2 linked regions of the Homo sapiens genome follow. The protein of the gene in region 1 purifies or fractionates together with the protein of each later gene. This does not show direct contact. Each region holds a gene or a part of one and is shown in the gene's direction. Other genes may lie near its edges.

Evidence for each region. The genes of interacting proteins can lie anywhere in the genome.
Region 2: the proteins of MARK1 (region 1) and AGO3 purify together in Homo sapiens (affinity purification with mass spectrometry, with the first as the bait; one large-scale study listed by BioGRID). This does not show direct contact.

What each region holds. Positions count from the first base shown.
Region 1 is NC_000001.11:220,531,061-220,534,716, forward strand, and holds part of MARK1 (serine/threonine-protein kinase MARK1), read left to right. Parts: intron 1-3,656. UniProt on the Homo sapiens protein: Serine/threonine-protein kinase. Involved in cell polarity and microtubule dynamics regulation. Phosphorylates DCX, MAP2 and MAP4. Phosphorylates the microtubule-associated protein MAPT/TAU.
Region 2 is NC_000001.11:36,004,088-36,007,743, forward strand, and holds part of AGO3 (protein argonaute-3), read left to right. Parts: intron 1-253; coding exon 254-388; intron 389-394; exon of another isoform or gene 395-1,771; intron 1,772-3,656.

The sequences.
Region 1 (3,656 bases):
ATTGTGTAAATAGGGCTAAATTGGTTTATAGGTGTTATAGGTGTTTATCAAAGAGGCCACCACTGATGGCTACGAAATCACCATTGGTGACTCTCTTTATTCTCTAGTTGGTAGTAAATGGCATCATCCATTTTTACTTCTCATCGATGAAATAAAGTAACAAGCCTGCTTGTTAGCTAATATATTAATGCCAGTATGGCAGCCAAAATGTATTTTTGTTTATAGTCATTTTCAATTACATGACATATTTTTAAAAATAGTTACAAAACTTTTATATTCATATGACTATTAAAGGGTTCTAAGTCCTTTGGTATATCAAGGACACTAACTAAAAACATTTTATTTTCCTTAGAAATTAAAATCAACAAATACAGTAATTTAAAACACCATCTTGATATTTCGTTGTCGTTTGCAGTTAATATAAACATTTCTTTGGTCATCCATATAACGTATTTGGATTTTGTGTCCTTGGGAATATATAATATCTACCCTTCTCAGTGTCACTAATATATATTCAGGATAAATAAAAATCCCAAAAGAGGAATATTATAGCACTGATCTCTTATATACTACTGCTATATATAGTAGAATGAGAAAGAATTGCTTTTCTCTAAGAACAGTCTATGTGTACTTTTTCAGGAGTATTTTCTTTGATGAAAGATTTGTGTGTGCCTTGTTAATAGGCCTCAACGGGCTAAATACAACAGGACAACCAATGATTAACTTTTAAGGCAATAAACACTTTGTAGTAAAGTAAAAAAAATGTGTTGCAGATAATAGAATCTATGCAAAATGTGTTTGATTTTAGATTATAAACAGTAAGTCCAGAAAAAGAGTAAAAAAGATTTCTCTTTTTTTCTTTTGTTAGATTTTATTTGGATAATTCCACCATGGATATAGATAATATATTATCATTACTCTTACATGTTTTTTAATGAAACAAGAAAAAAAATTTAGTATTTGGGAAAAACTCCGATTATGCTAATTATTAATGGGTCAAAAATGCTCAGCCTAGCTTTCTGTGATGAAATTTTGATCAGTATGAAGAAAACTCTTTTGACTACTTCTTGGAATGTTTTAAAATTGAATTCAGTTAGACTAAAAAGCCTTTAATAAAAAAAGACTCGATGTTGAGTCTTGTGACATACTGAAATTCATGGCGGTGATTATAATGATTACCTATTGTAACTAAGGTTGCCATCAGTAGTTTGTCTTTTGAGAATCATTGTTAATGGCATGAAGAAGCGAGAGGAAAGCATACCTTTGTCACTATCCTTGGATTTTCTGTGCATCCTTCACATGTCACAGTACCTATCACATAGCATCTAATTGCCTGACTTTGTCTCCCTTAGTCTGTGTTGCCAGTGCCCAGCACAGTGACTAGTACAGTATATAAGAAATCAGTGCTGTAACACCCCCTTTGAATTTTTTCATTTATCATCAAAATATATTGGTGACATTGGTGAGGGTAGACATTACGTATTACAACCTGAGAGGCTGAATGAAGCCTTCAGAGAGAAAATTTAGTGACCTACCCAAGGTTAATAATTCTATCCTTCAAGGTGAATAATGAAAATCTGACACCTTCCACTATTACTGTACTCATGCTGTTACTTCGAGAAAGTGTTTTTTTGTTTTCTTTTGTTTTGTTTGTGTCTTAAAGAGTTTAGAAGAGTGGCTCATGCCTCTAATCCCAGCACTTTGTGGGGCCGGGGTGGGAGGATTGCTTGAATCCAGGAATTCGAGACCAGCATGGGCAACATGGAGAAACCCTGTCTCCACTAAAAATACAAAAATAAGCTGGGCATGGTGGTGTGTGCCTGTAGTCATTCACAGCTACTAGAGAGGCTGAGGTGGGAGGGTTGCTTGAGCCGAGGAGATAAAGGCTACAGTGAGCCAAGATCACACCGCTGCACTCCAGCCCGGGTGACAGAGTGTGAACCCTTTTTTTTAAAAAAAAAAATAGATTTTAGAAGAGCATATGAAATGGTATAAGATACTTTATTAGAGGAAGAACAGGGTATGCCGTCCCTATCCCTACTTCTGAACCTTTACTGTTTTCTGTGTGGAGTGCCTTGCACTTGTCCCTTCATATCAAATTTACAAATCCTTTATGGCTTGTCTCATTGTTTTAACAAGACTTCTGAAATGATTGCAGCTAATATTGTTGTTTGTTGTAGCTGAACAGTGGTGGATGTATATAGTACACATCAGTGGTCTCTAAAGTGGGTGTGCAGGGCAATACATTGGAAGAAGAAATGTATTTAATGTTTGTCACTTCACTTCTGACCTACATGCTATTATTACGTCTTTTTTTTTTATAAAAATCCAGTTCATATAGAATTAGACACATGATTTTAAAGTTATTATTATTGTTATTATTTTTCCTCTTCCATCTCATTGTTTCCTTTGGGTGTCATTTTCTCTTTTCCTGATGAATATCTGTGGAAGTTCTTTTGGTGCAGGATTGTTAGTGATGAACTTTTTTAGATCTGAAGACATATTTTGCCCTAATTCTTAAACGATAGCTTTGCTTAGTCTGTAACTCTAGGTTGATAGTTTGATTTCTTTCACCACTCAGAAGGTAGTATTCCATTGTCTATTGATATACATTGTTTCTGTTCAGGAGTCATCTGCTATTTGGTGTGTGATCCTTTCTGTCTGTCTCTATCTTGTGTGGATTCATATGTCTCATCAGTTATGGGAATGTACCAACCATTATGTCTTTGAATGTTACCTTACCTCTGTTCTGCATAGTATTTCTGGCACTCTGGTTAGATGTGCGAAAATTTATCATTCTATCCTTCATGTTTAACCTGTCATTTATTTTTTTCCTCCTATTTCACTGTTTATCTGTACTCCAATCTGTAGTATAACCTATACTATAGTTACCATATATGTTTAGATCTTTCTTCAGCTGTATATAACCCTGTTAACCTATCTGTTGAATTTTTTTTCATTGTGGTAAAAAGCACACATCAGATACACCCTTTTAACAAATTTTTAAGTGTGCAGTACAGTATTTTTGGTGGGGAGGGAGTAGATTTTAGTGGTGGTAAGGTGGCAATTTTATTTTTTTATTTTTTCACGTCTTATTTTTTATTTAATTTTATGATATGTATTAGATCTATTAGTGCATATTTTGGGGGTATATGTGTTAATTTGATACATTCATATAATCAAATTAAGGCAATTGGGATATCTATCACTTTACATATTGATCTTTTCATTATACTAGCAACATTAAAATTATTCTAGCTATTTTGAAATGTACAATTGATTAGTTAACTATAGTCACCTCAGTGATCTATTGAACACGAGGTCTTTTTCCTTCTAAGTGTATGTTTATACTCATTAATCAATCTCTCTTCATCCTCCCCTTCCTACTAACCCTTTCTAGCCTTTGTTAACCACCAATCTACTCTCTATCTTCATGAGATCGCTTTTTTAACTCCCACATATGAGTGAGAACATATTTGTCTCTCTGTACTTGGCTTATTTCACTTAACATAATGACCTCCAATTTCATCCATAGGCACAATATTGTACAGCACATCTCTAGAAATTTTTCATCTTGTGTGACTGAAACAGTGTACATATTGAACAGCAACTCCCTATTTCCCTTTCTTTCCAGACCCTGGCAACCACCATTCTTA
Region 2 (3,656 bases), about 180 Mb from region 1:
TTCTCTATAGAGAATGGAATGAATCAGTTACTTACGATGAAAGAGATAGATTATAAAAACTGTAGTATTTGGCCATTTTGTATTTGTGCCTCAGAGGTCAAATTAAAACTGCTTAATTTTGGAAATTTGTATGTACATAAATGTGCATAAAGGATCATTTTAACCCTATAGATAGTTATCCTGGAGCCTAAGATGAAGTTTCTGAATTTTTTAGGGAAACATTAATTTGTATTGTTTGTGTTTTTCTTCTTAGTTTCTGCCACTGCCTTCTACAAAGCACAACCTGTAATTCAGTTCATGTGTGAAGTTCTTGATATTCATAATATTGATGAGCAACCAAGACCTCTGACTGATTCTCATCGGGTAAAATTCACCAAAGAGATAAAAGGTGAATTAATTAGCATTTAGCACAACTTAACTATAAAATGCATGGATATAACAACCTTTTATTAAAATGTTTTCTTATATAATTAAAATCTATGTAACATAACCAGTAAAACTATACATCAATTATAAAATAAAATATTACATTAAATTCATTACTATAACATCTTAGGTGGTATTTGAAAGAAATGCCAAGTAATGGAGTTAGTATCACTACCAGCTAATTTTTTGTTAATACTTTCCCTTACTAGCTGAAGGGATAAGAATGTCTCATGGGAAAATGCTTTAGTAATACTGTTAAAAGTAGGAAGCTCACTCCAAAAATATTTGTTATATTTTATAACTAGAATTATAGAACTAGAACATATTCTAATATAATGACTTCCTTATTTTTCTGAAATGATAGTTATTTATTTTAGTCCTTTAAAAACGTATAAATGTGGGGCTAGCCTGTTTCATGTGTTGTTCTAGAATTATAGTTATTTAATATAAGTTATAGAGTTGACTGTTGATCTTATCTATTATACTTAGTAACTAAAATTTGTACAGTGCTGTTGCATCATATGTACATTTAACTCAGATAAATTCATCTCTATGTGGCTGCCCAAAAATAAAAATAAAAATAATTTTAATAGTGTTCTGAAATCTGTATTTTATATGTATTTAGTCTGATACTCCCTAATCAGAATGAATAGGATAAGTTCTATTTATATTGTTAGATCTTAAATAGCCAGAAATAATTATGTTGTTTTTAAGATTTTACCTATTTATTGCAGATAATTTTCAGCTTGTGGTTTGAATGAAGCATTTAAGTTTGTTCACTGAACATCTTTCAGTTCCCCCAAATCAATTAGAGTAGTTTAATACATTCTGCTTGCTCCAGTAATAATTCATTCTTCGCCATTCAGTAACCAAGAGAGAGATAGTCATTGTAATAAAATATTAAAAGGAAGATCCACCCTGCTTTGAAAATAAGCATCCATTTATCTCAAGTTATTTAAATGCCAAAGTAAGAAACTGTTTATGTAACTGTTTTGCAACCATACCATTGTCCTTTCATGATCTGTATTAACTGCACAGCTAGCATTGTCAGGAGGTTAGTGCATTACCTACCATTAATATGTGATCATCTAAATGCCATGGTTTCCAGTGGAGTTGCTGCTTAGTTACCACCTCTGATATCATGAAGTCACTTACATTATTTTGCGGTAACTATGCAATCAACTCATATCACCACTCTATCACAGAAAATACAAGATGTACAGAACAAGGATTCAACTGCTGCCCGAAGAGCATGGACTCGATCTTAACTTCAACTGCTCAGGGGCCCAAAGAAATGACTGAAAAAATGACTAGAAAGCATAATAAAGTTGATGTTATAGTGAAGGTAAAGCCAAGTTTATAGGTTAAATATTTATTAAAGCCAAAAGTGTTTTTTTGGTTGGATGGAGGGTTTGGGGAGGGACCTGGGCAGAGAATTATCTAGTCCACTTTTTAAAAATTTCAACTTTTTGCTAGCACCTAGATTTTGGTCTAATTCTTAGGTATTTATGATCCTAGTTTGGGGGTGGAAAAATCTGGGTGGGATCCAATTGACAAACTGATTATTTTTTTCTTCATTCCAAGTAAAATAGGGCTTTTTTTTTTTTTAAAGAAGGCTCTTTAAAGTACATCATGTATTCCTACTACAGTAACCCAAGAGAATAAGAGTTTTGTGTTCTCTCCTGTATCTATGGGTTTTTTAGCTGGTATGAAGAATTTGATGCTAGCTGTTAAATAATGACACAAAGTGTGCAATAAAGAATAGATTTTCTTAGTATATTCATCTTTTTCCAGTTGAACTTGTACCTAAATATTTAATAATAACTTTGGAGTGGTTTCTTTATCCAGTAACTCGTGATAGTTAAACAGCAGAAATACTGGGAAAATGTATAAGTACCATATATATATATCTATATATGTGCCAACTTATTTTTAGTAAAAGCTTTATAGGCTTGGAGAACCTTATTAATATTTTTTTAATTCAAGGGGAAGAGTTGAAAATAAATTGCTAAGTGGTGCAAATAACAGAAATTTGTTTTAGACTTTTCTATTGTGTTCTCCCCTGAACATAATATTTTTACGTCTTGTTTCTTCATATTATTAGTATTTCCTTCTTTTAAGATCCTCCTTCGATAGTATTTTATTTTCTAGTCTCCTTTATAATATAAAGACATAGTAATTCTCTAGTTGATCTGACATTTTTGTCTTATAAAGGTAGTTGTAATGAAAAATTACTACTCACTGATTCAAGGAGGAGCACTTCCAAAGAAAAACAAACCCATACCAATCTGGTACAGGGATGGATACCGTGTCCATTTAACATCTTAATTTGTTCTGATCTATCAGAAGAAAATATCATTTATATGATTGAGCTTTGTGTTTGGTACTAATTTTCTTACCTAATTGCAGGTAGCAGTTAGGTAAGAAAATAAATTTTACCATAGCAGGCATTCTCAACCTTAGCAGCATTGACATTTTGGGCTGGATAATTCTTTGTTGGGATAGGGGTAGGGCTGTTCTCTGCATTACAGGATATTTCATACTATCCCTGGCCTCTACTCAATAGAAAGCAGTAGCATCTCTAGTCATGCCTATCAGTTTGTCTCCAGACATTGCCAAATGTCCCCTGGGGGACAGATTGCCCTCTGGCTAAGAACCACTGCAGTATAGGAATCACAAATATGAAAGAGAAATATGACAAAGAGTAATAACCATAAGTATTATCAGGGAACTAAAAGTTGTTCTCCATCTACCCCATTTTGGACTTTATCCCTTGGAGTCTAGGCCAAACTTTAGAAAGGAGTTGCTTATCTGTGACCTCTGTGTACCTGTTAACTCTTCTCTAGGCTAAGACTGCACTAACCACATGTAGCTACTTAAATTTAAATTAATTAAAATAAAGGCCGGGCGTGGTGGCTCACGCCTGTAATCTCAACACTTTGGGAGGCCAAGGTGGGTGGTTCACCTGAGGTCTGGAGTTCAAGACCAGCCTGGCCAACATGGCGAAACCCCATCTCTACTAAAAATATAAAAATTAACTGGGCATAGTGGCGGGTACTGTAATCCCAGCTACTTGGGAGGCTGAGGCAGGAGAATCACATTAACCCTGGAGACAGAGGTTGCAGTGAGCCAAGATTGCATCATTGCACTCTGACCTGGGCAACAAGAGCAAAAAACTAAAAAAAAAAAACCTAAATAAAATTAAATTTTCAGTTTCTTAGGTACACCAG